7 linked regions of the Homo sapiens genome follow. The protein of the gene in region 1 interacts with the protein of each later gene in a pairwise test. Each region holds a gene or a part of one and is shown in the gene's direction. Other genes may lie near its edges.

What was found.
Region 2: the proteins of GORAB (region 1) and FARSA interact in a two-hybrid assay, tested with the Homo sapiens proteins (one large-scale study listed by BioGRID and IntAct).
Region 3: the proteins of GORAB (region 1) and ZNF16 interact in a two-hybrid assay, tested with the Homo sapiens proteins (one large-scale study listed by BioGRID and IntAct).
Region 4: the proteins of GORAB (region 1) and PTPN9 interact in binary tests that used the Homo sapiens proteins (3 or more experiments, as listed by UniProt).
Region 5: the proteins of GORAB (region 1) and LPAR3 interact in binary tests that used the Homo sapiens proteins (3 or more experiments, as listed by UniProt).
Region 6: the proteins of GORAB (region 1) and PTAFR interact in a two-hybrid assay, tested with the Homo sapiens proteins (one large-scale study listed by BioGRID and IntAct).
Region 7: the proteins of GORAB (region 1) and ITGAM interact in binary tests that used the Homo sapiens proteins (3 or more experiments, as listed by UniProt).

Annotation. Positions count from the first base shown.
Region 1 is NC_000001.11:170,545,666-170,549,165, forward strand, and holds part of GORAB (RAB6-interacting golgin), read left to right. Parts: exon of another isoform or gene 1-126; intron 127-3,500.
Region 2 is NC_000019.10:12,930,912-12,935,028, reverse strand, and holds the start of FARSA (phenylalanine--tRNA ligase alpha subunit), read left to right. Parts: upstream 1-1,317; 5' UTR 1,318-1,332; coding exon 1,333-1,479; intron 1,480-1,732; exon of another isoform or gene 1,733-1,880; intron 1,881-1,991; exon of another isoform or gene 1,992-2,059; intron 2,060-4,117.
Region 3 is NC_000008.11:144,940,881-144,944,380, reverse strand, and holds part of ZNF16 (zinc finger protein 16), read left to right. Parts: intron 1-3,500. UniProt on the Homo sapiens protein: Acts as a transcriptional activator. Promotes cell proliferation by facilitating the cell cycle phase transition from the S to G2/M phase.
Region 4 is NC_000015.10:75,523,816-75,527,315, reverse strand, and holds part of PTPN9 (tyrosine-protein phosphatase non-receptor type 9), read left to right. Parts: intron 1-54; coding exon 55-198; intron 199-3,017; coding exon 3,018-3,107; intron 3,108-3,500. UniProt on the Homo sapiens protein: Protein-tyrosine phosphatase that could participate in the transfer of hydrophobic ligands or in functions of the Golgi apparatus.
Region 5 is NC_000001.11:84,886,707-84,890,206, reverse strand, and holds part of LPAR3 (lysophosphatidic acid receptor 3), read left to right. Parts: intron 1-3,500. UniProt on the Homo sapiens protein: Receptor for lysophosphatidic acid (LPA), a mediator of diverse cellular activities. May play a role in the development of ovarian cancer. Seems to be coupled to the G(i)/G(o) and G(q) families of heteromeric G proteins.
Region 6 is NC_000001.11:28,146,666-28,149,678, reverse strand, and holds the end of PTAFR (platelet-activating factor receptor), read left to right. Parts: 3' UTR 1-2,513; downstream 2,514-3,013. UniProt on the Homo sapiens protein: Receptor for platelet activating factor, a chemotactic phospholipid mediator that possesses potent inflammatory, smooth-muscle contractile and hypotensive activity.
Region 7 is NC_000016.10:31,269,975-31,273,474, forward strand, and holds part of ITGAM (integrin alpha-M isoform 2 precursor), read left to right. Parts: intron 1-979; coding exon 980-1,110; intron 1,111-1,872; coding exon 1,873-2,018; intron 2,019-3,390; coding exon 3,391-3,500.

The DNA of each region.
Region 1 (3,500 bases):
AGAAATGAATCAGAATGCCTCATTAGGCCAGGGTAAACCACAACATCAGAATGTTTATATAACAATTTATTAAAGCGGAAATGCTTGATTGTGGTTTTTAATAAACTGTTGAGTGTTTAAGAAAGAGTCTTGTGGTTGTCCTTGTGACTTTTGTAATTGTTGTTGGACCATATGCTATTAGACTTAGAGTTGTCTTTATTAATTAACTACTTAAAAGAATGCCATCAGTAGCTGATAACCAGAGGTTCCAGGTTTCCATTAATAAGGTCATTAAGGGAGATAACAGAGATTTTATTTAAGATTAAACTAAGCCTTGATTTGTAGCACATTTTATTCTCTGTAACATAAGTTTGCCAGAGGAACATTTTTATGCCTTTGTAGCCTTTTATATGAATAATTCATATTATAAGGTAGAAGTACTAGGTACCTCAGTTGAAATTTGAGGCCGGGCACGGTGGCTCACGCCTGTAATCTCAGCATTTTGGGAGGCCAAGGCAGGTGGATCACGAGGTCAGGAGTTCAAGACCATCCTGGCTAACACGGTGAAACTTCATCTGTACTAAAAATACAAAAAATTAGCTGGGCGTGGTGGTGGGCGCCTATAGTCCCAGCTACTCAGGAGGCTGAAGCAGGAGAATGGCGTGAACCTGGGAGGCGGATCTTGCAGTGAGCCAAGATTGCGCCACTGCACTCCAGCCTGGGCAACAGAGCGAGACTCCGTCTCAAAAAAAAAAAAGAAAGAAAAGTAATTTGATTTTAATTTTGTCCTAGTGGAAACTGGAGAAAGACGCTTTTTCATATTCAGTATTATATAAGAAATGTCATAGTTTTAGCCTTCTAAGAACCACAACAAAGAAGGTGGGATTACTAAAGGAAAAAACATCCTATAGTCTATAAGTATCCTAAATGAAATTTTAGTAAATTTTTAAATCTTTAGTAAGTTACAGATGACAGTTTCTCATGGTACTAATATTGATGTAGTTGAATGTAAGTAGATGTTGTGTGCCACTATTTTTGTTTTTATTTTTAGGTTTTTGAGACGGAGTATCACTCTTATTGCCCAGGCTGGAGTGCAGTGGTGCGATTTTGGCTCACTGCAACCTCCGCCTCCCAGATTCAAGCGATCCTCCTGCCTCAGCCTCCTGAGTAGCCCAACTATAGGTGCCCACCACCACACCTGGCTAATTTTTTGTATTTTTAATAGAGATGGGGTTTCACCATGTTGGCCAGGCTGGTCTCCAACTCTTGACCTCAGGTGATCCGCCTGCCTCAGCCTCCCAAAGTTCTGGGATTACAGGTGTGAGCCACCACGCCTGGCCATGTGCTGCTATTTTCAAAAGCCGAAGCTCTTGCGTTGAGTCAAAGGGAAACAAAGACTTTGGTGACTAGAACCGTAGTGTGTCTTGTTCATGCGTAAGATTAAGGTATTATTTTCTAAACTTGCATTTGTGGTTATTGAGAAATTACAGATCGGTAAAATAATATTATGGTCCAGATTTGAAGTGAAAGATAATCCCTAGGACAGTCAGTTTTTATGGGAGATTTCCTTGTTTTTTCTTTTTTTAATAAAAATGATATCTTAGTTCTATAGTATTTGGTACAGTGCTATGTCCACAAAAGGTTCTTGGATAGTGAATAGGCCAGAACTTGCTTTAAAATTGGCTTCTGTAGAGCAGTGTTTGGATAGACACCTCTGAGAAGACTAGCACTTTGAGCCAATTTGAGAGAGTTGCTGCTGCTGCTGCTGCTACTGCTGCTACTGCTGCTACTGCTGCTACTGCTGCTACTGCTACTACTGCTACTGTTCACCACTGGGATTACAATGTTGCCATATGCTGTGCAGACCAGTTTATAAAATCCAGAGTGGCTGCATGTAGAACATTTTTTTAAATCACTATTGACCATCTAGGTTTCATAGACACCCTCATACATGCAAACATACACCCACAGACGAATATTTTTAAATCACTTTATGAGTAATTTTTAAAAGTAAGATTAAAAGGGATTGTGTAAAACAACTTTAAAATTTTAATAAGAATGTAAGCATGGTAACCATCTTTGTATCAAGTAATGTTTGACTCACAAACATAAAAAGCTGAGAGAGTATAGTTACATCCTTGTAGCAACACAAGATAGTCTAGATACTTGTAAAATATTGGGTGTATGTTCTCCCTGCTGAAATGATTAACTCTATGATAAAATCATTTTTCCTTTCTATGCTTAGAAATATATTTTTTACTGACTGATTCTTAAGTTTGAGAAAATTCACCTAGGATATGTTTTGCTGAAGACTCATCTGAGATTTCACATATGATCGATTTTATCATCTAGACTCTAGAATGTGTCTCTGCATTTGTATTAGTTTCCTAAGACTACCATAAGAAGTAATCCAAACTGGGTGACTTAAAACAACAGAAATTACTTCTCTTTCATTTCTGGAGGCCACATATCCAAAATCAAGGTGTCAGATTTGTGATTTCTTCAGAGACTCTAGGTATCCATTTCTTGCCTCTTCCAGCTTCTGGTGGCTGTGGGCATCCCTTGGCTTGTGGCCACGCCATGCCATTCTGTGCCTCCATAGTTATGTTGCTTTTTCTTCTCTCTCTAAACTTCCTCTGCCTTTCTCTTAAAAAGATGCATGTGATTACACTTAGGGTCCAGCTGGATAATCTGGAATAAACTCCTCAAAACCTTTATCTTAATCACATCTTTTTCCATATAAGATAATTTTCACTCATTTGTCATAGAAAGTAATATTCACAGGTCCCAGGAATTAGAAAGTGAATATCTTTGGGAGGCCATTTTTTAGCCTACCACACCATTCATCTTTTGATTTCTTTAACAGTGGCAAGATGTCTTCCTCTGTCAGTTGTCTCCACTTTGCAAATACTGGATAGGCAGAAAATGAAAACTAAAAACAGGTTACAAAAATGGTGTTTTCAGTCTTCTTTTATACTTTCTGGAGGTGACATGATACTTTGTACAGCACAGTAAAGAAGCTCAACAATGATAAGTTATTGCATCATCCTTTCAGATCATTTTCTTATTTTAATTTCTTTTTATTACAAAAGGGAATAATTGATAAGTAATGATGAAATAATTCCTAGGATGATGAAATGGCAAAATGTTTCAAGATACAGGAAATATAAAAATACTGCAATAATCCTATAATATATCTTAGATTTATGAAAGGGTTCTTTGGACCTCTCTGGTAATTGCAAAATATAATTTATTTTATTCTGTTTTTTTAAATAAGTAAATTTTCTCATTATTTGAAAGACTTAAGAAAAGATAAAAATTATGAAATGCTAATTTATACAAATAGTGAGAACTGCTCAGAAAAGGAACTGAAAAACTAAAAGTGGACCCGTGGAACCCAGTGGTATACTGAGGGTTAATGGTTGAGTTTTTAAACATTTCAGGGGATACCAAAACAAAGAGACAATTTCTAGAATCCTTTAAAAATAACATTCATTAATTCATTCCATCCCCCTTTAAAA
Region 2 (4,117 bases), on another chromosome or scaffold:
AGTAGCTGAGATTACAGGCATGCGCCACCACGCCCTGCTAATTTTGTATTTTTAGTAGAGACGGGGTTTCTCCATGTTGGTCAGGCTGGTCTCAAACTCCCGACCTCAGGTGATCCACCCGCCTCGGCCTCCCAAAGTGCTGGGATTACAGAGGTGAGCCACTGTGCCCGGCCGAGTGCAAAATATTTTATTAGTCATCTTTTTTTTTGTAAGAGTCAGGGTCTGGCTGGCTGGGCGAGGTGGGTCATGCCTCTAATGCCAGCATTTTGGGAGACCGATGCAGGAGGATAACCTGAGCCTAGGAGTTTGAGACCAGCCTGGGCAACATGGCCAAAACCCATACTTAAAAAAAAAAAAAAAGCTGGGTGTGGTGGCGCGCACCTGCAGTTCCAGCTACTCAGGAGCCTAAGGTTGGAGGATCCTTAGAGCCTGGGAAGTCAAGGCTGCAGTAAGCCATAATTGCACCACTGCACTCCAGCATGGGTGACAGAGCAAGACCCTGTCTCAAAAAAGAAAGATGTTTTGCACTGTGTTTCTATAGGACAGTGCTAATCTAGGCCATGCAGTATTTGCACTGACGTTACTCTCAGCGCACAGGGGTGGGAGGATCTGGAAGGTTTATAATTTATGACTTCATTTCCACCAACTCTCTGTAGAACCTTGGGCAAGTCATACCACCCTCTGAGCCTCAGTTTTCTCACATGTGTAATGCGGTTATATCAGTATCTACATCATAAAGTTTTGGGGATAAATGAAATACTACACGTGAAGTACTCAGTTCTGGGCTAAGTACTACCACATACGAGGTAGTCCACACAGGTTAGGTGCCACCTTGACTTACTAGGTGAATTCCTTTTCCCTCTATAAAAAGGGACGGTACCTACCCAGCCTTCCTTTGAAATTTTAAAAGTAGCTGACATCGCCAAAATGACCATCTCTGGAGCCCACCACCCACCGCCTCTCCTAGGGCAAGAGAGAATACCAGAAGGGCAGAGGGTTCTGTAACCCAGAGACGGGGAAGTCCAAGGTCACACAGCCCGCTCGAAGTGAGGCTAGATAAAACTCAAAACAGGGCGGTGCTTCTGACCTTGAGATAATCAATTTTACCCCTCTGGTCAACCAGACGCCATTGATGGAGCCAGGGTGGAGGTGGGAACTGAGTCCCATGCACCTTTTGCGGCTCCGTCGCCACACTCAAGATGACGACACATTGAGCCCTGTTCTACAGTTAGACACATTCAAGATGGCGGTACACACTCCGGTTCCGGTTCCGGTGGCTCAGCTCCCCCCGCCCACCCGGGCCCGGACACGCTGAGCACACTGGAAGGAGTCATGGCGGATGGTCAGGTGGCGGAACTGCTGCTCCGGCGGCTGGAGGCGTCTGATGGCGGCCTGGACAGCGCCGAGTTGGCGGCTGAGCTGGGCATGGAGCACCAGGCGGTGGTGGGCGCCGTGAAGAGCCTTCAGGCGCTGGGCGAGGTGAGCCGGGCCCGTGATGCCGGACCGCCTTGCCCTTGCACCTACAGTCCCCTTGCCACGGGCGCTCTACGTCCAAGCCAAATTCCCTCAGGCCTAGTTTGGGGTAGCTGTATATGTGTCCACTCCGGGATGTGCGGGCGGGAAGTGGGACGAGTGAGGGCCCAGACGCACGGATGTTCCTCATGCAATAAACGTTTATTGAGGCACGGTCAGCGTGGGTAGAGGGTACGATGATGGACGAGGAAGTCGCGGTTGCTGCCCTCACGCAGGTTGCGACGTAATAGGAAGGTGCTTCAAGAACCAGAGTGATGGGGGAAAACAGGGGACCCAGCTGTGACAGCTGACCCAGCCTTGGGGGTCAGGGAGAGCGGCCTGGTGCAGGTGACGGCTGAGTCTGTTCTCTGTTGAGGAAAGTGATAGCACTTTAGAGATCAGTGGCCGGGATCTTGGGGGATGGCAGGCGGCAAGGGAGACCAGCATAGCTGTAATTGCAAAGCCTCTTAGGTCTTTACCTCATGAGGGAACTGGGAAGCGATAGCAGGAGCTAGAGCCGGTCAGATGAGTGTGCTATCCACATCACCTTTGGGAAGAATTGGCATGGACAGGACTGGAGGTGAAGGGATGAAAGAAGAAGCTGGCACTTCCCCAAGCTGGAGGGCATGATGTCTGGCTATGGGAAGGAAGCTTGGGGGAGGTGGGGAAGGCGTGGGATTCAGGACAAGGCAGGGGGCGCACAGATGAAGTCCAGCCTTCTGACTTGGGCAAGTGGACAGTGACAGAGTCACAGGCGTAGGATGCTGAGGGGCCCGTGGGCCACCCAGAAGGCTAGATCCATGGGGCCAGGATCTGGGCTGTTTATCCGTAGAGCTCATGTTCTGTGCCCCACTTTGGTCTCAGCTTGTTTGTCCAATCCATTCCATAATCCTGGCTGATGGCCATGTTATTCCCATTTTGCAGATGTGACAACTGATGGTCAGTAACATAATCAGTGTGAATAGAAGAGGCCGATGAGCCCAGATTTGAAATTAGGCACTCAGGCTGCAGAGCCCATAGTCCTCAATGCAGAGGAGAGATGGCAGCTGTGTTGTGTGGGGTGACAGTGCCTTGACCAATATGATCTGACATTTGTATACGTCACAGAGGGTTAAATAATATAAGGAGGTGAGGTTCAATCTAATGACAGTAATAGCCATAAAAATAATTATAGTAATTAGAATTTATGCCGGGTGCAGTGGTCACACCTGTAATCCCAGCACTTTGGGAGACCAAGGCGGGTGGATCACGAGGTCAGGAGTTCAAGACCAGCCTGGCCAAGATGATGAAACCCTGTCTCTACTAAAAATACAAAAAAAAATTAGCCAGGCGTGTTGGTGGGCACCCGTAATCCCAGCTACTTGGGAGGCTGAGGCAGAGAATTGTTTGAATCGGGAGGTGGAGGTTGCAGTGAGCCGAGATCGCACTCCAGCCTGGGCGACAGAGCGAGACTCCGTCTCAAAAAAAAAAAAAAAAAAAATTTATGCAGTGTTTGTCACGTGGTAGGCACTATATATTCTTTCTGAGTATTAATTTAGCTACTCCTTAAAATCATCTGAGGTAGAACCCATCACACCTTTCTCTTATGGATGAGAAGAGTCACTGAGAGGTTAAGCAACTTTCCTGAGGTCACACAGTAAGTGAAGGGCAGAGTTGGGATTAGAATGAAGTGGGAGCCAGGCCCTGTGCACTCTACTTACCCTTGTTGTCCTTGTCTTCATGACTCTGGACCTGGAACCTCAGTTTTTGTTTGTAATGTGGACCTCCAGGGCCCGTCTCTGACATTCTGGGCACTGACATGTGAACATTTAAACATGGAGACAGGCTGGGTATGGTGGCTCATGCCCATTATGCCAGCACTTTGGGAGGCTGAGGAAGGAGAATCACTTGAGGCCAGGAGTTTGAGACCAGCCTGGACAACATAACAACACCCTGTCTTTAAAAAGTAATTTAAAGGGCCGGGCACGGCGGCTCACGCCTGTAATCCTAGCACTTTGGGAGGCGGAGTCGGCCGATTACGAGGTCAGGAGTTTGAGACCAGCCTGGCCAACATGGTGAAACCCCATCTCTACTAAAAATACAAAAATTAGCTGGGGGTGGTGGTGGGCACCTGTAATCCGAGCTACTCGGGAGGCTGAGGCAGGAGAATCATTTGAACCCGGGAGGCAGAGGTTGCAGTGAACCGAGATCGCACCATTGCACTCTAGCCTGAGCGACAGTGCAAGACTCCGTCTCAAAAAAAAAAAGTAATTTAAAAATTAACCAGGTGTGGCGGCACATGCCTGTAGTCCCAGCTACTCGGGACTGGCGGAAGGATCGCTTGAGCCCAGGAGGTCTAGGCTGCAGTGAGCTATGATCACACCACTGCACCCAGCCTAGTGACAGGGTGAGACCCCCTTTCAAAGAAAACAAAAACAAACAAAAAAATGTGGAGACATATCAGTTCACCTAATTTTTCACATTAAAATCTGTCACAGGTTCAAAACCGACAGAATTTGTCTTCTGCCAGGTAACATCTTTAGTGGTGTACTTTACCCTGGGAGGTGTAAACTATCATTATTACTACCCCTGTGTTACATAAGGGAAATGGAGACACAGCAAGGGG
Region 3 (3,500 bases), on another chromosome or scaffold:
ACGCCTGTAACCCAGCACCACGGTGGCTCATGCCTGTCATCCCAGCACTTTGGGAGGCTGAGGCAGGTGGATCACGAGGTCAGGAGATCAAGACCATCCTGGCTAACAAGGTGAAACCCCATCTCAACTAAAAATACAAAAAATTAGCTGGGCATGGTGGCAGGCACCTGTAGTCCCAGCTACTCTGAAGACTGAGGCAAGAGAATGGCATGAACCCAGGAGGCGGAGCTTGCAGTGAGCTGAGATCACACCACTGCACTCCAGCGTGGGTGACAGAGTGAGACTCCGTCTCAAGAAAAAAAAAAAGAAAAAAAGAAAAAAAAAAACCATAGAGAACTAAAAGAACCAGGAAAATGATGTGTGAACAAAATGAAAATATCAATAAGAAATACAAATTGTAAAAGAAACATAGAAAGTCTGGAACTAAAAAATGAAATGGAAATTTTGCTAGAGGGTTTCAGCAGTAGATTTGAGCAGGCAGAAAAATCGGCAACTTGAAGATAGGATAATTGAAATCATTCAGTCTGAGGAGAAAAAAGATCTAAGAAAAGTGAACTTAATGGCTGGGCGTTGTGGCTCACGCCTGTCATCCCAGCACTTTGGGAGGCCGAGGCAAGCAGATCACTTGAGGTCAGGAGATCGAGAGAATCTTGGCCAACGTGGTGAAACCCTGTCTCTACTAAAACTACAAAAATCAGCTAGGCGTGGTGATGCATGCCTGTAGTCCCAGCTACTCTGGAGGCTGAGGCAGGAGAATCGCTTGAACCCAGGAGGCGGAGGTTGCATTGAGCCGAAATCGTGCCACTGTACTCCAGCCTGGGTAATGGAGTGAGACTCTGTCTCAAAAAAAAAAGAAAAAAGAAAAGTGAACTTAATGGACCATGAGACACCATCAAGTAGACCAACGTGCATAGTAGGGATGTTCAAGAAGGAAAAGAATAGAGAAGGGGATGGAAAAAATATTTGAAGAAATAATGGCTGAGAGTATCCCCAATGTGATGAAAGACATGTCTACACACACAAGCAGTTCAACAAACTGAGTAGAGTCTATTTAAAGAGATCCACACCAGGTCTCTTTCTAATCAAATTGTTGAAATACAAGGAATCTTGAAAGCAGCAAGAGAGGAGACCTATCCCTGAACAAGGGGTTCTGGGTAAGATTTCTAGCCAGTTTTTCATCAGAACCCATGGAGGTCAGAAGGCAGTGGGACGGCTTAGTTAAACTGCTAAGAGGGGGAAAAAAACCTGTCAACTAAGAATTCTGTTATCTGGCAAAATTATTCTTCAAAATGAAGGAGAAATTAAAACATATCCAGGTAGATAAAAGCTGAGGAAGCTTGTTACAAATAGACTGCCCCACAAGGAATGCTTTTAAAGGGAGTCCTGAAGGTTGAAATGAAAGAACACTAGACAGGGACTCAAAGCCATACAAAAATAAAGACCTCCAGTAAAAGTAACTACATAGGTAAGTATAAAAGTTAGTATCCCTATATTTTGGTTTCTAAGTACACTTTGTATTAAGTTGGTGCAAAATTAATTGTGGTTTTTGCCATTACATATTTCCTAAGTGATCTAAAGAACAAATGCATAAAAGGTCTGCATTATAAGTCTATGTTTTTTACCCCACTATGTATAAAGGTGTAATCTGTGATGACAACAACATAAGGGGGGTAACATCTGTAGAGAAGCAGAGATTTTGTGTTACTGAGACTAAACTGGTATCAGTTGTTTTAGGATGTTAGAACGTTCATTGCAATCATCATGGTAATCAGTAAGAAAATATCTTAAAAATGGGCTTGACGCAGTGGCTCACACCTGTAATCCCAGCACTTTGGGAGGCCAAGGCAGGCAGATCACCTGAGGTCAGGAGTTCGAGACCAGCCTGGCCAACATGGTGAAACCCTGTCTCTACTAAAAATACAAAAATTAGCTGGGCATGGTGGTGGGCACCTGTAATCCCAGCTACTCAGGAGGCTGAAGCAGGAGAATTGCTTGAACCCAGGAGGCAGAGGTTGAACTCAGGCAGAGGCATGAGATTGTGCCACTGCATTCCAGCCTGGGTGACAGAGCAAAACTCCACTTCAAAAAAAAATCTTAAAAATGGGCCAGGCATGGTGGCTCATGCCTGTAATCCCAGCACTTTGGGAGGCCGAGGCGGGCAGATCACAAGGTCAGGAGATTGAGACCATCCCGGCTAACACAGTGAAACCCCGTCTCTACTAAAAATACAAAAAAATTAGCCAGGCAAGGTGGTGGGCACCTGTAGTCCCAGCTACTTGGGAGGCTGAGGCAGGAGAATGGCGTGAACCCGGGAGACGGAGCTTGCAATGAGCCAAGATCGCGCCACTGCACTCCAGCCTGGGAGACAGAGCGAGACTCCCTCTCAAAAAAAAAAAAAAAAAAATCTTAAAAATGGACACAAGAGGCCAGGCGCGGTGGCTCACGCCTGTAATCCCAGCACTTTGGGGGCTGAGGTGGGCAGATCATGAGGTCAGGAGATTGAGACCATCCTGGCCAACACAGTGAAACCCCATCTCTACTAAAAATACAAAAAATTAGCCGGGCACGATGGCACCCGCCTGTAGTCCCAGCTACTTGGGAGGCTGAGGCAGGAGAATCCCTTGAACCTGGGAGGCAGAGGTTGCAGTAAGCTGAGACCATGCCACTGCACTCCAGCCTGGGTGACAGCGAGACTGTCTCAAAAAAAAAAAAATGGACACAAGAAGTAAGGCAAGAATTAAAATGGTACACTACAAAAAAGGTAATACCTAAGAATACAGCAGTAGAGGAACTGAGGAACAAAAAGGTAAAAGATTTATCAAAAATAAATAAAATGGCAGAAGTCCTTCCTTTTCAGTAATTACATGTGAAGTCTCCAGTCAAAAGGCAAATATTGACAGAATGTGTAAGAAAACATGGTCCAACTATATGCCACAAGAGGCTTTAGATTCAAAGACACAATAAGTTTAAAGTGAAAGGTGGAAAAATATTCCATGCAGAGAATAACCAAAAGAGAGTTGGGGTGACTATACCAATATTAGACAAAATAGATGACAAATAAGGACAGTATGTATTTATAAAAGGGCAGAGTCATCAAGAAGATATGGCAATTATAAGCAGATACACATCAAAAAAAAGAGCTCCAAACTATCTGAAACAGACATAGACAGATTGGAAGGGAGAAATAGCTCTATAGTAATAGAGACTTCAGTACTCCACTTTGAAAAATGGATAGAACATCTAGACAGAAGATCACTAAGGAACTAGGGGATTTGAACAGCGTTACAACCCAACTAGACCTAATGGACGACCATCACTGTGGTCTAAATGTCCCCCCCAACCCCTCCCCTCTCCAGTCATATCTTGAAATCTAATCTGCAGTGTGTCGTTATTAAGAGGTGGGGCCTTTGGGAGGTGACTGGGCCATGAGAGCAGAGCCCTGTGAATGGGATTATCTCCTTATAAGAGGCCTGAGGGAGCTTGTTAGCTTCTTTTCTTGC
Region 4 (3,500 bases), on another chromosome or scaffold:
CTCCATAAATATGCTCTCTTCTTACTAATTATTCTTTCTTTCTTTGTCAAACAGGCTACCAAGCAGTTTCTCGAAGAGATTAACAAGTGGACAGTTCAGTACAATGTTTCCCCGCTGTCTTGGAATGTGGCTGTCAAGTTCCTCATGGCAAGGAAGTTTGATGTGCTCCGTGCCATAGAATTGTTCCACTCCTACAGAGTATGTGGCTCAGGGGTAGACCAGACCTGTGGCAGTTGGGTTAAGTGTTGCTGTTGTCCCTGTCATGCTCGACACACACATTGGTTCTCTAAGTGTTCCTCCTCACTTTCATAAAAAATGGATCCATATCCAGGAGCCCTTGTGAGAGCTGAAGCTGGGCAAGGCAGCTACTGGAAGGCACTACTTTTGTACCTAAGTTTTGATCGTAGACCAGGATGCCACATCTAATGATTGAGACGGAGGAAGTAGCCTGACAGCATCCTGGTGGCAGGATAGGGGTTCACCCTTCCTAGAGTTTTAATCCTAGCTCTTTTCATTGGCCTCTGGCCACATGAAAATCTTGGTTTTCAGGTTGTCTAAGGCTTTTAGAAACTTGCCATTCAGATGAATGATGAGCTTAGTGGGCAGTTCAGGAAGGGAAGTTTTAACACTGGAAAAGAAGAGCAACTGTGTATTAGCTAGGTCCATTATCTTAAAGTATCTTTATGCAAATGTAGCGGCATCAGGATTTTACTTTGTTTTGATTTTTGTTTTTTGAGGGGGCATAGACTTTGGTTTTGTGCTTGTTTGCTTTCTCAGTTAGTAGTGTCTTTGATAAAACACTATACAGCATGTTACTTTGGGGTCAGAATCCTTCTAAAGAAATACAAAATCTCCCTAAAAAAAAAAATTGGGATAACAAGCACTAGGATTAGCTTAACTGAAGTTTGGTTACATCTGTCTTGTGGACCAGCTCATTCAATATTCATTCATTTACTCAACAGATACTTATTTTATACTTACTGTGTTCCAGGTGCAGAGATTACTATTTAGAAAGAGAGACTAGGGCTGGGTGCGGTGGCTCATGCCTGTAATCTCAGCACTTTGGGAGGCCAAGGCAGGTGGATCACTTGAGGTCAGGAGTTTGAGACCAGCCTGAACAAAATGGCAAAACCGCATCTCTACTAAAACTACAAAAATTAGCTGGGTGTAGTGGCACCTGTATTCCCAGCTACTCGGGAGGCTGAGGAGGGACAATCACTTGAACCAAGGAGGTGGAGGTTGCAGTGAGCCGAGATCACACCATTGCATTCCAGTCTGGGCAACAGAGTGAGACTGTTTAAAAAAAAAAAAAAGAAAGAGAAAATAAACAAAGAGTTGTAGAAATGTTATGATAAGGCAGCACTGGATTCTGTGGAAGCACTTTTTTTTTTGAGACAGAGTCTTGCTGTGTCTCCCAGACTGAAGTGAAGTGGCATGATCTCAGCTCACTGCAGATCTCTGCCTCCTGAGCTCAAGTGATCCTCCCACCTCACCTTAGCCTCCCGAGTAGCTGGGACCACAGGCATGCACCACCATACCTGGCTAATTTTTTGTATTTTTAGTAGAGACGGGGTTTTGCTATGTTGCCCAGGCTGGTCTCGAACTCCTGAGCTCAAGTGATCCACGCACCTCGGCCTCCCAAAGTACTGGGATTACAGGCATGAGCCACCGTGCCCAGCCTAAGAGGTTTAAAACAAGCGGTTGATGAAATAAGACAAACCAAGATAATATTTTTTTGTTATCGGTATATAAAGGTAGAGAATGTCTCCGGAAAAAGGAAGTGTAGGTGGTCAACCTTGTCATTTAAGAGGAGAACTGAAGAGGCTGGGCGCGGTGGCTCATGCCTGTAATCCCAGCACTTTGGGAGGCCGAGGCGGGTGGATCGCTTCAGCCCAGGAGTTGGAGACCAGCCTGGGCAACATGGCAAAACCCCGTCTCTACTAAAAACACAAAAATTAGCCAGGCATGGTGGCACGTGCCTGTAATCCCAGCTACTCAGGAGGCTGAGGCAAGAGAATCTCTTGGACGTGGAGGTTGCAGTGAGCCAAGATCATGCCACTGCACTCCAGCCTCAGCAACAGTGTGAGACTTGGTCTCAATTAAAAAAAAAAAAAGAATCTGGCCATCAGGGTGAGGAAAATGAAGTCATGGTAGCTGCTGTTGGAGACAATATCAGGTGGAGAGAAGGCTCCTATTTAAACATAGGAGAGGCCTAAACCTAGAAAATATGTGAGAACGTAGGCATCCAGACATTTTTGAGGTCCATATTTTAGTGTCCTGGTACCATGTCAGTGCTGCTGCGTGTTTAAGAACCTTGATCCTGCACCTGAATGTAACATACTGGTTACTCTTCAGGGTTAGGGTTCTTACTGAGTCAGAGAAAAATACCCTACCTGAGGGGCTGATAAAGTAGCTTTGGACAGGAATTCCGAAAATGCTTGACTGGCTTGGAGGCAGGTTACAAAGAAATTCATAATTCATTTAGTTGACTTCATTATTCATTTAGCTGAATTCTTTTTTTTTTTTTTTTTTTTTTTTGAGACAGAGTCTCATTTTGTCACCCAGGCTGGAGTGCAGTGGTGCTGTCTTGGCTTACTGCAACCTCCACCTTCTGGGTTCAAGCGATTCTCCTGCCTCAGCCTCCTGAGTAGCTGGGATTATGGGCGCGCACCACCATGCCAGGCTAATTTTTGTATTTTTAGCCGAGACAAGGTTTCACCATGTTGGCCAGGCTGCTCTCGAACTCCTGACCTCAGGTGACCTGCCCGCCTTGGCCTCTCAAAGTGGTGGGATTACAGGCGTGGGCCACTGCGCCCGGCCCATTTAATTGAATTCTAATTCAACTAAATGAAGTAGAATTGGTTATGAAATTAGTTACAAAATTTATTTAGTTATGAAATTTATAATTCATTCATTCATTGATAACCACCTTATCTCTGAGATTTGGTGGTTACATGGTGCTGTCCTGGATATACAGTATTTTCATATTAATACATTTTGCTGTGCTTCCTTTTTAGGAAACTCGAAGGAAGGAAGGCATTGTAAAGCTGAAACCTCATGAGGAACCTCTTCGTTCTGAGATCCTCAGTGGAAAATTCACCATCTTAGTGAGTGTTTAGGGACCTATCTTGTAGGGCCTTATTACTTCCTTTTTTAACTGGTGTCCTGTTTGGACTTTGTTTTTTTTTTTTTTTTTTTAATTTTATTATTATTATACTTTAAGTTTTAGGGTACATGTGCACAACGTGCAGGTTTGTTACATATGTATACATGTGCCTTGTTGGTGTGCTGCACCCATTAACTCGTCATTTAGCATTAGGTATATCTCTTAATGCTATCCCTCCTCCATCCCCCCCTGTTTGGACTTTGTTCCTATATACCTTATCCTGAATCTAGAGAGTCTCCACAGTTAGGAGCAGATGTGAAACAGCCATGCAGTTTGGTATAAAATTATTTTAGTAACAATTGAATTACTAATAGTTTCTAGTAATTAGAGTTAC
Region 5 (3,500 bases), about 86 Mb from region 1:
GGTACTGAGCCTCCCCCTTTCCGGCCTTGATGATCCTTTGTTCCTCATCCTGGATTCTGTATTTGTGGAGGAGTCACCTGGAACTCAGTCCTGCTGTGGATGGCAGAGGTGGTGATGGGGCTGGGGAGCTATCTGCATAAGTGCAGAGACTTTGTGCTTTTACAAACGGTGGACTAGAGGTACTTGGAGCACAGGGTTCTGTCTTTGAATCCTAGTCCCACTTTTGTGAGTTCTTGTGACCCTGAATAGATTGTCATGTTTAAGTTTTTTTCATTTATATAGTGGGGATAATAATTACTTTTCTACCTGTCTACATGGATTGTTAATGAGTTCCATTAACTTATGTACGTGAAAGAGCTTTGTACCCTGTGAAGAGTGCATAAACATTGGAATTAAAGAGGCAGGACATCCAGATGTGGGCCACCCCAGGCAGGCCCACTCAGCTCTGGCTATTGGGGGTTGGCAGTATCTCCACAAGCATGTTTTGAGTGCTAAGGGGGCACTGCTGCAGTTCTTCCATATTCCTCTCTCCCGTCCTCTGACATCATACTGGACTTCGAGGAGGAAATAGCATCAAAGGTTGAGAAACTGCTCTGTGGGGAATATGAGAGGAAGTTAAATTTCAGGACTGAGGTTACCCAACACTACATGATCGAAGGCATAGGGCAAAGTTCCAAAGAAGCTTTAATTTCGTGTTGGAATTACCTGTACTGTCTGCGCATCTCAGTTCTTAGTGGACAAACACAAACAGCTGGCCACCACCCATCCCACAGGTCAGGAGGAGGGTGCTGATGGCAATGTTGGACAATGTATTGGGTCCACCTATACCATCCTCACTCCCCTGTGCCTTCTTGCTGACTTGGGTCTCTAGTTTACTCTGCAAAGTTCTAAACTGACCAAAGGCATTGCTCCCCCACCCCCAAATTAAGCTAATTACTTAATTCAGTCTGAAAGATATTTGTTGCTCTCTACCTGTCCTGGCAAGCCAGCTGGAGGGTGGGGGAGGGGATTTAGTACCATTGAGGGGAAGGTTCTGACATCCTGGGTTATACCCACCCCTCTCTTCATCACCCCCAGTCTTATGTCCTCCTCTTTATTCCTCTTCCTTGGCTGGCCTCTTGTCCTGTGTATCTACAACCTTGAACTCCTCCCTTGCCCATGACCCCTGATACTGCCCTACTCCCATGATTCTGTCACCCCTCTTCAGATGTGAATCATTTGTACACCTCAGGCTGGGCCAGACTGGGTGTCACTGTGGAAAGCAACCTGCCCAGCACAGCCTGCCCCACCCCTTCCTGAGGATGTTCATCAACCCCTCTAATTACTCATCAGCTAGTCCTGTGTCTACATTGTTCCCTGGGACATTAAGCTGGAGCTTCTACTAGCCCTGGCCTTGACTCACCCATGTGCAGATTGACCAGTTATCAAGGGATGGCTTGGCAGGTGGCAGGGCTGGGTTGGAGGGCACATTAGCCCCTCCATAAGTGCACTATTTGGTCCAAAGGCCTTCCAAGCAAACATGCGGTCTAAATAAAAGCAGTGTATTTGCTTTATAAATGCAGCTTTAAGGCAAGCCCCTGGTCTCCCCTTTTAAGCCAAGCTATCCCGAAGCACATCCTCTGTAGAAATTCTGGAGCTGCCCCCAGACAGACTCAGACCATGTAATTCAAAGATAGGCAGCGGAGTCTATCAGCAGCATTCACTCCCTAAGGAGGTAGAAAGCCAGAGTTAAGACTCAAAGCCATTGGCAGTGACTAGTTATAGAAAACCAAAGCAAGGGATCAAGTATAGAATTTATTGGGAGCACATCAGTGAATCATTTACCTCCTGCCCTGTTTGATTTTTAGTAAGTCAGTTCGTCGAATGGGGGTAAGGAAGGCCTTTCTCTGGACAAAAACTATCACATGGGTCTGGTGAAGAGAAAATAAGTAGTATAATCTTTTTCTATGTCTCCATGGCATTAGGTTTGAAATCTCAATCTCTCCCTCTCTCTCCCTCCCTCCTTCTCTCTGTCTCTGCCTCTCTCTGTGTGTGTGTGTGTGTGTGTGTGTGTGTATGTATGTATATATATATATATAAAATATACATCATCAGTCTTTATTCTGAGAGGAAGTCATAGACATTATTCTCCATCACTCTTGAAAACACTCCAGCATAAAAAAAAAAGCAAGCACTCTGTCCTCCTATATAACCAGCGTACACCCATCAAATCAGGAAATGGACATTGATACAAAACACTATCATCCAATCCACAGAGCCCATTCCTATTTCGTCAGTTATCCCCCAAATGTCTCTTCTACCTGTCTGATCTAGGATTCATGTTACATTTAGTTACCATGTCTCTTCTGGAACGGTTCCTCAGACTTTCCCTGTTCCTAAAGTGTTTGCAGTTGTATAGGTCCTACATGCTGTAGGATGACTCCCAACCTGGCTGTATTGGGTATTTCTTCACAGCCTGACTGAGGTCATGCATTCTTGGCAGGAATCCTTCAGAAATGAAACTCAGCTCTTCTTAGCTTCTTACAACAGAAGGCACATGGTGCCAACCCATCCCACTGCTGGGATATTGACCTCAATCACCTGGTTATGTTGGTGTTTGCCAGATTTCTTCACCTTAAATTCGCCATTTTTCCTTCGTTTCCCTTTGTTTCCCCAAAGGTGTTTGAAAACACCTTTGTACTAGTGTTTGTGGGGAACTATTCTAGGGTTATGCAAATAGCCTGTTCCTCATTAAACCTGTACCTACAGAAACTACCATTTATTGATGACGTCTGCCTGAATCAGCCACCTCTATGAATGTTGCCAAATGGTGATTCTTTTTTTTTTTTTTTAAGACAAGGTCTCACTCTGTTGCCATGCTGGAGTGCAGTGGCATGATCTTGGCTCACTGCAGCCCCAACCTCCTGGGCTCAAGTGATCCTCCTGCCTCAGCCCCCCAAGTTGCTGGAACTACAAGTGCACACTACCACACCTGGCTTATTTTTTTTTTTTTGTATTTTTTGTAGAGATGGAGTTGGTTTCACCATGGTGCCCAAGCTGGTCTCGAAATCCTGAGCTCAAGTGATCCACCTGCCTTGGCCTCCCAAAGTGCTGGGATTACAGGCATGAGCCCCTGCACCCAGCCTCAAGTGATGATTCTTTATCACCGTCACTCTTTCTACATTTGTTAGTTGGCATACTACTATAAGGAAGAACTTTATTTTTCTGTTATGTTTTTACTAAGAACTGTTCATGGATTCCTTATGTATTCAATAAGTTGAAGTCTCACGATTGTTTTTTATTTTAATGCTCAAATTGTGCTCAATTTGGCCAATGGGGACCCCTTGGAGCTGCCTCCTGTGTCCTTTTAACACATCCCTATTATTCATTGAGCATTTCTTTATTTTCTGGCTCCACCAGATCATCTGGACTCATCTTCTACTTTCCTTGACCTAGTTAGGCCTCCCTTTTAGTAGAGAATGGTACTTTTGTCTTATTTATATTTTATATATTTAAGGCAT
Region 6 (3,013 bases), about 140 Mb from region 1:
AAACCACCTAGTTCTCCCCGATGGGGCATCGGTCTAAAGCTTTGGGGGAGTGGGCGCAGTGGCTCACACCTGTAATCCCAGCACTTTGGGAGGCCGAGGTGGGCAGATCATGGGTCAAGAGATCGAGACCATCCTGGCCAACATTGTAAAACCCCATCTCTACTAAAACATACAAAAATTAGCCGGGCATGGTGGCACACGCCTGTAGTCCCAGCTACTCAGGAGGCTGAGGCAGGAGAATCGCTTGAACCTGGGAGGCAGAGGTTGCAGTGAACCTAGATTGCACCATTGCACTCTAGCCTGGCAACAGAGCGAGATTCCATCTCAAAAAAAAAAAAAAAAAAAAAAAAAAAGCTTTGGGCAACTACTCTCAAGTGATAGAGGTAGACTGGGTTAGGAAAGGACACTGCCCTCACTGTATGGCACTACCTTGGGGCAGACTTTTGAGCTAAGATGTTGCCATCCTCTCTCCACCCTCCGGCACAAGGTCTTTGTGACCTTTCTCAGGGGAAGGGGCTTGATGGAACCTTCTCTGACTCATCTGGCAACCTGTCCCTAATGGTGACCAAAGAAGATAAAACATGAACAGACCAAAAGCTAGGACAAGAGCTTGCTTCCCAAGACAGACGTGTCTGTCTGCAAAGGCCTTGCCTCTAGTCCAGTCAGCTCTGGGGGAGTGGGAAGGAGATGCCCACCTCCTCTTTCTGTCTCAACAATAGTCCCTAATTAAGTACCTTCTGTGGGGCAGCCACCCACTGAGGGTGGGCAAAGGCCCCTTGAAAGCAAAATTGGGGCTGGGCTCAGTGGCTCATGCCTATAATCCCAGCACTTTGGGAGGCCAAGGCAGGCAGATCACCTGAGGTCCGGAGTTCGAGACCAGCCTGGCCAACGTGGTGAAACGCCATCTCCACTAAGAATACAAAAATATGGCTCATGCCTGTAATCCCAGTACTTTGGGAGGCTGAGGTGGGCCGATCATTTGAAGTTAGGAGTTTGAGACCAGCCTGACCAATATGGTAAAACCCCGTCTCTACTAAAAATACAAAAAAATTAGCCTGGCGTGGTGGCGCATGCCTGTAGTCCCATAGGCTGTAGCTACTGGGAGGAGGCGGAGCTTGCAGTGAGCCGAGATCACGCCACTGCTCTCCAGCCTGGGCGACAGAGTGAGACTCTGTGTCAAAAACAAACAAACAAACAAAAAAGGCAAAATTGGAGCTGTCCAGGCCAGGACACCCCGATGTCCAGGGGCTTCCATACGAACAGGCACATGGGCTGGGAAGTACATGAGGCCCCTGGGTAGAAGGGTCTGTCAGTTCTCTCCTCCCTTGCCCTCTGGGAGGGTCCTCCTAACATAGCTTCCAGGAGGTGGGAGGAGCAGTTACTGTCAGCAGGTGTCAGCCAGGTGTCAGCTTCTCCTGGGGATCTCTAGATGTCTGCTTGTGATTTTTGGCAAGTATATGCAAATGAGCCTCCTCTCCTGCCCTGAGACAAGTATCTGCAGTGTGAACCTGGCAGCCTCAGACCCAAGGGGCTCAGAGGAAACTTCTCTGGTTTCTAGAGCTCTGTGCTCCTTCAGAGAAGTCTTCCTTCCTTCCAGTCAGTGTCCCTGTGAAGCTGGGATACTCATTTCCTGTGTACCGGGCAAACACCGGATTGCTGATTTTGAGAAATGCCTCTCGATGGACCTGTAACCTGCTGGAGTCTGGGATGGTAGCTGTGGGCTGGACTTGGCTGATGGGATGACCCGGTGGCTAGTGCAGCATCACACAAGCCTGGTTCAAGTCTTGGCTGTGTCATTTCCTGCTGAGGGACCAGGCACTGAATTTCCTACCTCTTAGGGTCATTACCTATGAGGTTAAAGCTACCTCATGGGATTGTTATACGCCACTAATGTTGAGGCAGACACCTCTTGGCAGGGTGACTGCTCATCTTAGACCCTCCCCTTTTCTGCGAATTTGGGCCCCTTGATCCTCTGATGGGAGCTGAAAGGATGAGAGGTGGGCATCTAGATTTAGGGAGGCTGTTCAGGCTTTGCAGGTCCCTTACCTGAACACATAGAAACCCTGGAGCTGTGACTGTGTCCATGTGTGTGTGTTTGTCTGTGTGTGTTGCGGGGGATGGGCACCTGCATGAATGTGGTAGAGAAAATGGCTCTGCTCAGAGGGAAGATACGCATAGCAAGGCAGGGACCAGAGGAATCACAGGCGCCTGGAGAGCAGCCGGGCACCGCCTCCAGGGACCTGCCGGCTTCCCTCAGTCCTCCAGGGGCCCAGCACTCTTCCTTTAGGCCCTGTGAGCGTCCCTTGTCAGGATACATTCTCTCATTTTGCTGAAGCTGATTTGATTGGGTGTCTGTTTCTCGCAGCCAAAAGAGCTCTGAATGAGGAAAGTGCTTCTGTGCTAACTCCCCGCGTCTCCTGAATTTCAGTCATTCATGTACCCGCCTCGAAATTTTTGCAATATCTGTGTACCAACTGTCCATTTACTTAATAAAGAAGTTTTCTTTAAATTAAGTCACTTTTAAAAACTTACATTTATTTGAAAGAAAACATTATAACATAATTGTAAATGAAAACTAATACTACCTGCCACAAATAGAAGGTAGACATAAACATAAAACCGTAACTATAAAAATGTTTCTCGCCTGGGTGCGGTGGCTCACACCTGTAATCCCAACATTTTGGGAGGCTGAGGAGGGTGGATTGCTTGAGCCCAGGAGTTCGAGACCAGCCTGAGAAACATGGCAAAATGCTGCCTCTACAAAAAATTTGTGGGTGTGGTGGCTCACGCCTGTAATCCCAGCACTTTGGGAGGCCAAGGAGGGCAGATTACCTGAGGTCAGACGTTCAAGACCAGTCTGGTCAACATGGCGAAACCCCGTCTCTACTAAAAATACAAAATTAGCCGGTCATGATGGTGGGTGCCTATAATCCCAGCTTCCCAGCTACTTGGGAAGCTGAGGCAGGAGAATCACAATCACTTGAACCCGGGAGTTGGAGATGGCAGTGAGCCG
Region 7 (3,500 bases), on another chromosome or scaffold:
AGCTGAGCGGCAATGGGTAGAAAGTGGATTTGGGGATGGGGCAGAAGGCAGAGGAGCACATTCCACATCACTTTATATGTGTGTGCCCTTCCCTTTTCTAGAATCTACTCCTTTTGTATATCTGGCAAATCCTTCCTTCCTTCCTTCCTTCCTTCCTCCTTTGCTTTCCTTTCCTTTCCTTTCCTTTCCTTTCCTTTCCTTTCCTTTCCTTTCCTTTTTTTCTTCCTTTCTTCCTTTTCTTCGAAGTCTTGCTCTGTGACCCAGGCTGGAGTGCAGTGGTGCGATCTCAGCTACTTTTTGTATTTTTAATAGAGATAGGGTTTCACCATGTCAGCCAGGCTGGTCTCAAACTCCTGATCTCAAGTGATCCACCTGCCTCAGCCTCCCAAAGTGCTGGGATTACAGGTGTGAGCCACCTCGCCCAGCTGGGCAAATTATTTCCTGTTCTTCAAGATTCAGTCAAACATCACCACATTCCCTGATTCCCTTGGGCAGAATTAACGAAAATTTTCCATACCACTTTGTCCTTGTTTATTTACTTATTTATTTATTTTTAAGAGACAGGGTCTTTCTCTGTGGCCCAGGCTGGAGTGCAATGGCGTGATCATAGCTCACTGAAGCCTCAACCTTTTGGGCTGAAGTGATCCCCCACCCTCAGCCTCCTGAGTAGCTGGGACTACAGGCATGTGCCAACATGCCTGACTAATTTTTAACGTGTGTGTGTGTATATATATATATATATATATATATATATATATATATATATATATGTTTTTAACGTGTGTATACATATATATATATACACACACGTTAAAAATTATATATATATTATACATAATTTATATATATATTTAACATCTATATTTTTTATAGAGACGGGGTCCTATATTCTCATTGTTCAGCAGAGGGCTGACATGCAAAAAAACCCAAAACACCAAGTGTCAAATTACTTGATTCATACTCTTTTCCCCTTCCCCAGGGTGTCCTCAAGAGGATAGTGACATTGCCTTCTTGATTGATGGCTCTGGTAGCATCATCCCACATGACTTTCGGCGGATGAAGGAGTTTGTCTCAACTGTGATGGAGCAATTAAAAAAGTCCAAAACCTTGGTGAGGGCCCAGGGGTAGGTTAGGGAAGAGCCCACACGGGGCTGGAAGATACATGGCAACCGGGCCACCATGTTCTCCTCCCAGTTCAACTGCAGACATTGCCAAATTGACGATCGATTATGGTTTGCCTTCCTGAGTCTCTTTTCTGCTCTGTTGGATGCAGCCTCAGCATTCTTTCAGCCTTTTATAAAGCGGGCAGCTCTAATTGTTAAGGTTGGCATGGGAGATGAAGCCCACGTGTCATTGCTGGCTGAGTTCTATTTTCATTTTTATTTCTTATTTTTTTGAGACAGAATCTCACTCTTTCTCTCAGGCTGGAGTGCAGTGGTGTGATCTTGGCTCACTGCAACCTCCGCCTCCCGGGTTCAAGCAATTCTCTTGCCTCAGCCTCCCGAGTAGCGGGGATTACAGGCGCATGCCACCATGCCTGGCTAGTTTTTGTATTTTTAGTAGAGACGGGGTTTCACCATTTTGGCCAGGCTGGTCTCAAACTCCTGACCTCAGGTGATCCACCCGCCTCGGCTTCCCAAAGTGCTGGGATTACAGGTGTGAGCCACTGCTCCCGGCCGCTGGCCGTGTTCTAGTATTGAGGAGAGATGGGAGCTGCTGGCAGCTCTCCGTCCTGGTGAGGCAGGGGATTAGGGGCAGCACAGAGGAGGAATTTGGAGAGTGGAGTGTTTAAGATCTTCGTGGAGCTTGCTGGGAGATGTCTGAGGGGTGGGGGCACCTTCTCCAGCATCACACCAGCCGCCCCCTCCGCAGTTCTCTTTGATGCAGTACTCTGAAGAATTCCGGATTCACTTTACCTTCAAAGAGTTCCAGAACAACCCTAACCCAAGATCACTGGTGAAGCCAATAACGCAGCTGCTTGGGCGGACACACACGGCCACGGGCATCCGCAAAGTGGTGTAAGCTTCCCCTTTTCCCTTAGGATGGAGGGAGGAGGAGACACTTTTAGCTGGGCTTTGATGGATGAAGGGAGCCGTTCAGACAGGGGTGGTAGAGGATGCTTCCCCACCGGCAGAGGTGGGGAGGCTGTGCGTGGTGTGTTCATCAAAGGACAAGTTGTGAGTGAAAGGTGGGAGTGGAGTGGGGAAGTGAGGGAAAGGTGTCTGGAGGGAAGCTACAAAGATCAGCTCAGGCCAGGGAGCCAAAGGCAGCTTTACAGCCTGTGGTGAGATATCGCCATGTCTCATTTTGGGAAGTTCACTCTGATTTTGAGGTGGGTGTAGAGGCAAGGATGGGGTTGGGACAGAAGTACAAGAAGCACTGGAGAGTCCTAGAGGGGCTGGGGAGCTGGTGCAGTGCTCTGGGAGAGGTTTCCTGAAGGCCAATTAACTATATATATATATATATATATATATATATATATATATATATTTTTTTTTTTTTTTTTTTTTTTTTTTTTTTTTTTTTTGAGACAGAGTCTCACTCTGTCACCCAGGCTGGAATGCAGTGGCCTGATCTCGGCTCACTGCAACCTCCACCTCCTGGGTTCAAGCAATTCTCCTGCCTCAGCCTCCTGAGTAGCTGGGATTACATGCGTCCATCACCACCATCAGCTAATTTTTGTATTTTTAGTAGAGACAGGGTTTCACCATGTTGACCAGGCTGGTCTTGAACTCCTGACCTCAGGTGATTCACCTGACTTGGCTTCCCATAGTGCTGGGATTACAAGTGTCAGCCATAAATATATATATTTTTAAAATTCAAAAGTAATAATACTCAGTTAAAAAACCCAAATTATGCGAAAGTATAAAAACAAAAACCGTGAAGGCTTCCTTTCCCTTCCCTGCTGCTTTTCCAGGTCTCGGGGCAGTTGCATCTCAGTGCTAAGTCTCAGGGGAGACGGAGCCCCTCCGAGACCTCGCCTAGCTGTATCTGTGTCTGGGACTCTGCTGACATTTCCTTTCTGACGTTAATAGCATCTCTGGCTAGGTGCAGGGTCTCATACCAGTAATGTCAGCACTTTAGGAGGCCGAGGTGGGAGGATCACTTGAGGCCAGGAGTTTGAGACCAATTGACAACATAGTGAGACTCTATCTCTAAAAAGATAAAAAAATAAACCAAGTGTGGTGGTACATGCCTGTAGTCCCAGGTACTCAGGAGGCTGAGGCAGGAGAATCACTTGAGCCCAGGAGTTCAAGTCTGCAGTGAGCTATGATTGTGTCTCTGCACTCCAGCCTGGATAACAGAGTGAGTGTCTATTTCTTAAAAAAAAAAAAAAACTAGTGTGTCATCTACTTGCATTTGACTTTGTCCCTCCTGTTTCCTGCACAGACGAGAGCTGTTTAACATCACCAACGGAGCCCGAAAGAATGCCTTTAAGATCCTAGTTGTCATCACGGATGGAGAAAAGTTTGGCGATCCCTTGGGATATGAGGATGTCA